2 linked regions of the Homo sapiens genome follow. The protein of the gene in region 1 purifies or fractionates together with the protein of each later gene. This does not show direct contact. Each region holds a gene or a part of one and is shown in the gene's direction. Other genes may lie near its edges. The genes, in order: TAFA1 and SEZ6L2.

Region 1 (3,819 bases):
ACTTGAAGAGTTTATTTGAACCAAAATAAGGATAGCTGCCTGGAAGACTCAGACCATAGTAATCTTGGATATGAGCTCTACTGGCCATAGTTAAAAGCAGGTTTTTAAAGGGGGAAAAATGGGGATGGGGGAAAGTTTTTGTTAGGAACTCTCATTGGTTTACAGAAATAACATTCATTAGTGATTGGCTATCCATTGTTAAGCTATAGGGCATGGGATATGGTGTCCACTGAGGCATTATTAGGTTAATGCATAGCTATTTGTGGCAATTGCAAGCCATCTCCTTAGATGAATGTGTGTCTCAAAACAGAGGAAGCAGGGTGTGATTGCTATCTCATTTTACACCTCCCTGGGCCTAATAATTTGAAAAGGCTCACATTCCTCACATAAAAGTTCTTTTCTTTCCTCACTACATAATAATTTTATTCAAAGTAAAGATTGAGGAACACTGAATTCTAAAGAAGGGGAAGACTGAAGTAAGAAAAGCATAGAAGGAAAGCCTAAGGGCAGAGAGATGTCTGGATGGTTAAACCATTCTGCTTTTAAGTCAGCAATCTCATCCCTCTAGTGAATACTGGATAGAGAGAGAATTTTAATGTGCTCCTGCTTTGCTTCAGGGTCTACTCCATCCCGTTTTAATGTTAATCCTCTGTGACATTATCATATGTCATTTGGCTTCTTTGTGTTGTGAGACTTAAAGATCATGGTGGAGAGCATCTTTGGAACATGGGGGATGGAGGGGAGTGAGTAAAGAACGAGGGTTCTCGTCCCGTGTAAAAACAGCCAACCAGAAAGCATCGTAAGACAAACACCTGGCTGACATTTTGAGGATTCTGAATGGGAAATGCCCAGGTGGATTTGGGAAGAGCTAACACAGGGAGGAGCTACAGAAATGACTGGTGCTTGTGTAGAAATCATTTTTCAATTAAGGCATTAAGGGAAATATAGAGTTTCTTGATTTGCATTGAGTGAATCTAGTCACTGGTTTTATAAAATTTTGTTATCAGAAAATGTGTGCTGTAAATATTTAGTACATACACTAAATTCATTGCCAGCTTCCTATTGTGGTCATCCTTGATATTCCCCTGAAAATTAGGGCTGCTTTATCAGAGGCTCAACTTTTGATAGTTCCCCCCACATCATATTAAACATATTAAAAGGTAACCACAACTCATATCAACTATACTCTTGATGGTAAGGATATATTTTTATCTAATATTACTCTTGACTTTTATTTTGCAACTTTTCTTTTGTACTTTCAGTCAATTCATTTTTTCTATGCCAGGCCTTTGAAATTCTTCAAGGCCCTAGGCTAGGCGATAAACCCTAATGCTTGGTGGATAAATTTGCCTTTCTGAGAAGAATGCCTCAGTCATTCTGAAGAGTATTGAGGCATTTGTCCCCTTCATTGAATAGAAATAGTGCAAGATCTGTGCTCTACAAAAGCTAAGAGCACGAAAGTTCCTGAAGACCCAAAAATTAAGTGTAGGGGGCAAAGAAAAACTCCTTCATCTTCTGAAATTTTGATGAAAAATCAATGGGCAAAAGGCAGGTTAATAAAAGAAAAGGCATACAAATTTATTAATGTGTACATGAGGGAGAATCACAGTGATTACACTAACCCCCTAATGGCATATAAAAACTTACATACTATCTTGAAACTTCATAAAGAATGGGGACTCAGTGCATGGCCCAAAACAGGTTATGATGGTAAATCAGGTTATATGGCAAGACAGGTTAGGGAAGGGAGAGAAAAGGAGGCCTGGCTAGCAACGTTGGTCTCACAGGTAGCAGCCCTCAGAGAAAATAGCTGGTAAATATTTCTTTTAGGCCTTTAAAAGTGTCAGACTCTCAGTTAATTTTTCCTAGACTGGACAATGGGGGCTTCAGAGAAAGCCTGGTTGTATCAGTGCAGATTTTCTTTATAGATACAAATCTCCCCCATGAAAGAAAACTTTGCTGGACTACTTCTGTTTGCTGACTCTCTGAACAGCCGTCTCACACTATGTCAAAGAAGCATATTTTGGAGTAAAATATTTTTATTTCCTTCATAAGTCTTCCTCTTCCATATGCATTTGGCATAAAAACAAAAAGATTGTTTTAATTGCCTGTGGGTTCTTCCTGTCCACTGTACAGACAAAAACTAATTCACTGAGACCATGATATTGCAGTAAAGAAAGAGTTTAATTAACTCAAGGCTGGTCACGTGGGAAACCTGGAGTTATCACTCAAATTAGGCTCCCTGAAGTCTTCGAGGTTAGGATTTTTCAAGGGTAGTTTGGTGGGCAGGGGGCTAGGGAATGGGGAATGTTGATTGGGGTTGAAATGATAGAGGTGTGGCAAACAGTTCTCATGTGCTAAGTCAGCCTCCAGGTGGGGGCCACAGGACTGGTTGGGTCCTGAGTGTGTGGGTCTCAGTGGAGTCAGTTGCTAGAATGCAAAAGTCTGAAAAAATCTCAGTCAATTTTCAGTTCTACAATAGTGATATTATCTACAGGAATAATTGGAAAAGTTACAAATCTCGCAGCCTCCAGAACAGTAGCTGATTATCATTTAACTACTTCTATATCTTAAGAGAATTCAGCCCCCTCTCATAGTCCTAACTTTGTGGCCTTTCATTAGTTTTACAAAGGCAGTTTACTTTTGGGAAGGGTTATTATTATCCTTGCTTTAAGTTTAAACTAAATTCCTCCCAAAGTTAGCTTAGCCTATGCCCAGGAATGACCAAAGATAGCTTGGATGTTAGAAGCAAGATGGAGTCAGCTATGTTAGGTTTCTCTTACTGTCATAATTTTGAAAAGGCAGTCTCAATCCCCAACAAAAATGCTGCTTGATGAAACCAGTCCACATAATTATATTTGCATTATAAGGCATATAAATTAAAATCTTATTTTTTTAATAGAGCTTTCTTAGCTAGTCATGGAGGATTAAAGAGAACTTAGTGTGCTTCCAAGAACGTGAAAATCTGCAGAGGGACACAACGTCAGTGTTCAGGTTGTTTGGATGAATTGCAAACACAGTTGTTTCCTGTTTCTGCACAGCCTCCATAGTGATTGGGAAATGGTGGTGTGAGATGGAGCCTTGCCTAGAAGGAGAAGAATGTAAGACACTCCCTGACAATTCTGGATGGATGTGCGCAACAGGCAACAAAATTAAGACCACGAGAGTAAGTGCACTTATTTCAAATGTATTTTGGATGTTACAGACTGTACTATTTGAGTTTGTGCTGTGCAAACAGCATCCACAGAAGCTTTGCACAGGAGAGAAGATTCTCCACTGACAGAAAGCATTCTGAACTATGCAGATCAGTGTCCATCCGTGAATGAGACGTTAGAGATTGAACTTGACTTTCCCACACTGAGCAGTTTAGTGTTTCTGTCACAGACTCATAAATTAAGTTGGGTTTCCAGCCAGAGTGGAGAGGAATCATGAGGTAATTATTCGGATAATTCATCCAACATTTATAATGCTCAGAATGATAATCAAATGAACTTCCTCCCTAATTCATCCAGATGGTTTGCTGAAAGGGTCTGCGTTTAAGTACACCTACAGAAGCCATTTTCTAATGTTCTTTAAAAGAGTTCTGTGATGATCCGTCAGAGAACTGAAAAGGGTTTTGGGGAGTGAATACATCATTCTTTGATTTCTTTGGTTAAATCAGGAGTGATCTTCTAAATAAATAACAATCTTCAGGGTGGGGTAATCCAAACCATCAAAATTGGCACCCTTATGCTGGAGCAGGGCAGAAAGGCCCAGCTAGCTAGATATTAACCCTGTAGTTACTGGACAGCCTTGGAATCCTAAAGGGGACAGGGGTGG
Region 2 (3,819 bases), on another chromosome or scaffold:
TAATAACAAAGGTAGCATTTCTGTACCCTTACTATGTACCAGGCAGTGTTCCAATTGTTTCAGCTATATAACAGTTGGGAAAGGGAGTTCTGGCTCAGGTGGGAGAGGGAGCATTGCTTAAAGATAGTGATGGACATGGTGGCTCTAGCCTGTAATCCCAGCACTTTGGGAGGCCAGGCGGGCAGATCACCTGAGGTCGGGAGTTCGAGACCAGCCTGAGCAACATGGAGAAACCCTGTCTCTACTAAAAATACAAAATTAGCCAGGCGTGGTGGCGCATGCCTGTAATCCCAGCTACTCAGAAGGCTGAGGCAGGAGAATTGCTTGAACCCGGGAGGTGGAGGTTGTGGTGAGCTGAGATCCAGCCATTGCACTCTAGCCTAGGCAACAAGAGCAAAACTCCATCTTAAAAAAATAAAAATAAAAAAATAAAAGATGGTGAGGGGGGCACAGCAGCGCACAGCTGTAATCCCAGTGATTTGGGAGGCCAAGGCAGGAGGATCGCTTGAGGCCAGGAGTTTGAGTCCAGCCTGGGAAATGTGGCAAGACCCCATTTCTACAAAAAGTTTTAAAAATTGTCTCACCATGGTGATGTGCACCTGTGGGCCCAGCTACTCGGGAGGCTGAGGAGGGAGGATCACTTGAGCCCAGGAATTTGAGACTGCAGTGAGCCATGATTGCACCACTGCACTCCAGCCTGGGTGACAGAGCGAGACCCTGTCTCAAACAAAACAAAAAGATGATGAGAAGTGCTAAGGAGAAGGGAGATGAAGGCCAGAGTTGCTTGGCTGGGAGGGCAAAAGCACAGGCATTCCTTCCATCCCAGCCATTTGTATCTCCTCAGTTCTGTGTAATAACAACATCTCCGAGGGCGAAGGGTATGTGGAGTCTCCAGATCTGGGGAGCCCCGTCAGCCGCACCCTGGGGCTCCTGGACTGCACTTACAGCATCCATGTCTACCCTGGCTACGGCATTGAGATCCAGGTAACTGGACCAAAGCATGTGACTGTGCAGCTTCCAAGCCTTTTCCTCTGGGCTGTGGGTGTGCACGGGTTTGGCCTGGGAGCCAAAGAACCTGTCTGATGACTCAGGTGACCTCAAAAACTCTTCTAGATTTCTACAACTTGGGCAGCAGCGTGGTGCCTTTTGGGCTGCTACACACAGGGCAAAGGCACAGGACAGGGGCTTTGGAAGTCAAACACCTGGCTGACTTGCCCTGGCGGGTCTGTGTCTGGCTTCTCTAGGTGCAGACGCTGAACCTGTCACAGGAAGAGGAGCTCCTGGTGCTGGCTGGTGGGGGATCCCCAGGCCTGGCCCCCCGACTCCTGGCCAACTCATCCATGCTTGGAGAAGGACAAGTCCTTCGGAGCCCAACCAACCGGCTGCTTCTGCACTTCCAGAGCCCACGGGTCCCAAGGGGCGGTGGCTTCAGGATCCACTATCAGGGTGAGGAGTTTGAGGGTGCTGCTGGAAGGGCAGGGGCCATACTGCATACACTGGACATCTTTTTTTTTTTTTTTTTTTTTGAGACAGAGTCTTGCTCTGTCGCCCAGACTGGAGGTCAGTGGCGTGATCTCAGCTCACTGCAAGCTCTGCCTCCCAGGTTCACGCCATTCTCCTGCCTCAGCCTCTCAAGTAGCTGGGACTACAGACGCCCGCCACCATGCCCAGCTAATTTTTTGTATTTTTAGTAGAGATGGGATTTCACCGCGTTAGCCAGGATGGTCTCGATCTCCTGACTTTGTGATCCACCTGCCTCAGCCTCCCAAAGTGCTGGGATTACAGGCAAGAGCCACTGTGCCCGGCCTATAGAGGGGACATCTTTAAGAACCATCGAAGCACAGGGTGCCGAAGGGGGCTTTTCCTCCTGACTGCGACCCTGGGGGGCAGGGCCCTCAGAGGAGACCCATGCATACTTATCTCACACACTCACAGATCTGTGCACACATCCGAGGGACAATTCATCCATTGAATCCAACAAATGTTTATCAAGTGCTTGCTTCATACCAGGCCCTGTGTTAGCCTTGAAGGAGGAATGAACAAACCAGGTGTAAATCTGGCTTCAACGAGCTCAGAATCTAGGTAGGAAGACAGATGAGTAATCAGGATGGTTATAATTCAAGGAGATAAGGAATATGATGGCAGAAACACCAGCGGGGGCAGCACATAGCCAAGGGACCTAAATTTCTCCCAAGGAATATGGGGACATCTTCTTGGAGGAGATGATGACTAAGCTGAGACCTGAAGGATAAATTCGCCAGGGAAAGGGTGGGAGGGAGGGAGAGAAGGAGGGAGGCAGATGGCTAAGTGGATGAAAAAGCACACTCCAAGACCCAGAGAGAGAAGACGTGACCCCCAGATGAGGTGAAGGAATTCAGCATGGAAGATAGAATTGTCCTAGCTGTGTGACCTGGGACAAGTTACTTAACTTTTCTGTGCCTCATGATCTCATCTGAAAAATAGGGATCACAATACTTAGTATTATGGGGAAGATCAAATGAATTAATACATGTCAAGTGTTTAAAACAGTGTGTGGCCTGGCGTGGTGGCTCACGCCTATAATCTCAGCACTTTGGGAGGCCAAGGCTGGTGGATCACCTGAGGTCAGGAGTTCAAGACCTGCCTGGCCAACATGGTGAAACCCCATCTCTACTAAAATTACAAAAATTAGCCAGGCATGGTGGCAAGCACCTGTAATCCCAGTTACTTGGGAGGCTGAGGCAAGAGAATTGTTTGAACCCAGGAGGCGGAGGTTGCATTGAGCTGAGATTGCGCCATTGTACTCCAGGCTAGGTGACAAAAGTGAAACTCTGTCTCAAAAACAAACAAACAAAAACACAAACAGCGTGTGGTACACAGTGAGAGCTCAAAACTGTCAGTCACTGCTATTACTTTCAAAGCACAGAAGCGGGTGAAGGGGAAATGGGCCAGAGACCAGGCTGGGAGGCAGGTCAGATTCAGACCATAAAGAGCCTTATCTGCTTCAGTAAGCAGTCCAGACTACTTCAACCTGCAGGTGTGACAGGCAGATATTTGAATTTTTTTTTTTTTTTTTTTGAGACAGAGTCTCACTTTGTTGCCCAGGCTGGAGTGCAGTGGTGATGACCTCAGCTCACTGCAACCTCTGCCTCCTAGCTTCAGATGATTCTCCTGTCTCAGCCTCCCCAGTATCTGGGATTACAGGCACCTGCCACTACGCCTGGCTAATTTTTGTATTTTTAGTAGAGATGGGGTTTCACCATGTTGGCCAGGCTGGTCTCGAACTCCTGACCTCAAGTGATCCACCCGCCTTGGCCTCCCAAAGTGCTGGGATTACAGGCATGAGCCACCACGCCAGGCCTCCTAATTTGAATTTTATTTATTTATTTATTTATTTATTTGAGATGGAGTTTTGCTCTTGTTGGCCAGGCTGGAATGCAATGGCGCAATCTTGGCTCACCGCAGCCTCTGCCTCCCGGGTTCAAGCGATTCTCCTGCCTCAGCCTCCTGAGTAGCTGGGATTACAAGCATGCCCCACCACTCCCGGCTAACTTTGTATTTTTAGTAGAGACGGGGTTTCTCCATGTTGGTCAGGCTGGTCTCGAACTCCCGACCTCAGGAAATCCTCCTGCCTTGACCTCCCAAAGTGCTGAGATTACAGGCGTGAGCCATGGTGCCTGGCCTGAAATGTTTTAAGCAGGAAAGTGAAAGCCTCAGATTTGCAATTTAAAGATCCTTCTGACTTCTGGGGGCAGGAAAGGGGGGCTGTATTCACGCACGACTGCATTTGTTAGGACCTATGACAGATGACCTGCACATGTGTGTACATCCATGCTTACC

What was found.
Region 2: the proteins of TAFA1 (region 1) and SEZ6L2 purify together in Homo sapiens (affinity purification with mass spectrometry; one large-scale study listed by BioGRID and IntAct). This does not show direct contact.

The regions. Positions count from the first base shown.
Region 1 is NC_000003.12:68,535,715-68,539,533, forward strand, and holds part of TAFA1 (chemokine-like protein TAFA-1 isoform 1 precursor), read left to right. Parts: intron 1-3,041; coding exon 3,042-3,166; intron 3,167-3,819.
Region 2 is NC_000016.10:29,892,886-29,896,704, reverse strand, and holds part of SEZ6L2 (seizure 6-like protein 2 isoform 5 precursor), read left to right. Parts: intron 1-844; coding exon 845-984; intron 985-1,244; coding exon 1,245-1,446; intron 1,447-3,819. UniProt on the Homo sapiens protein: May contribute to specialized endoplasmic reticulum functions in neurons.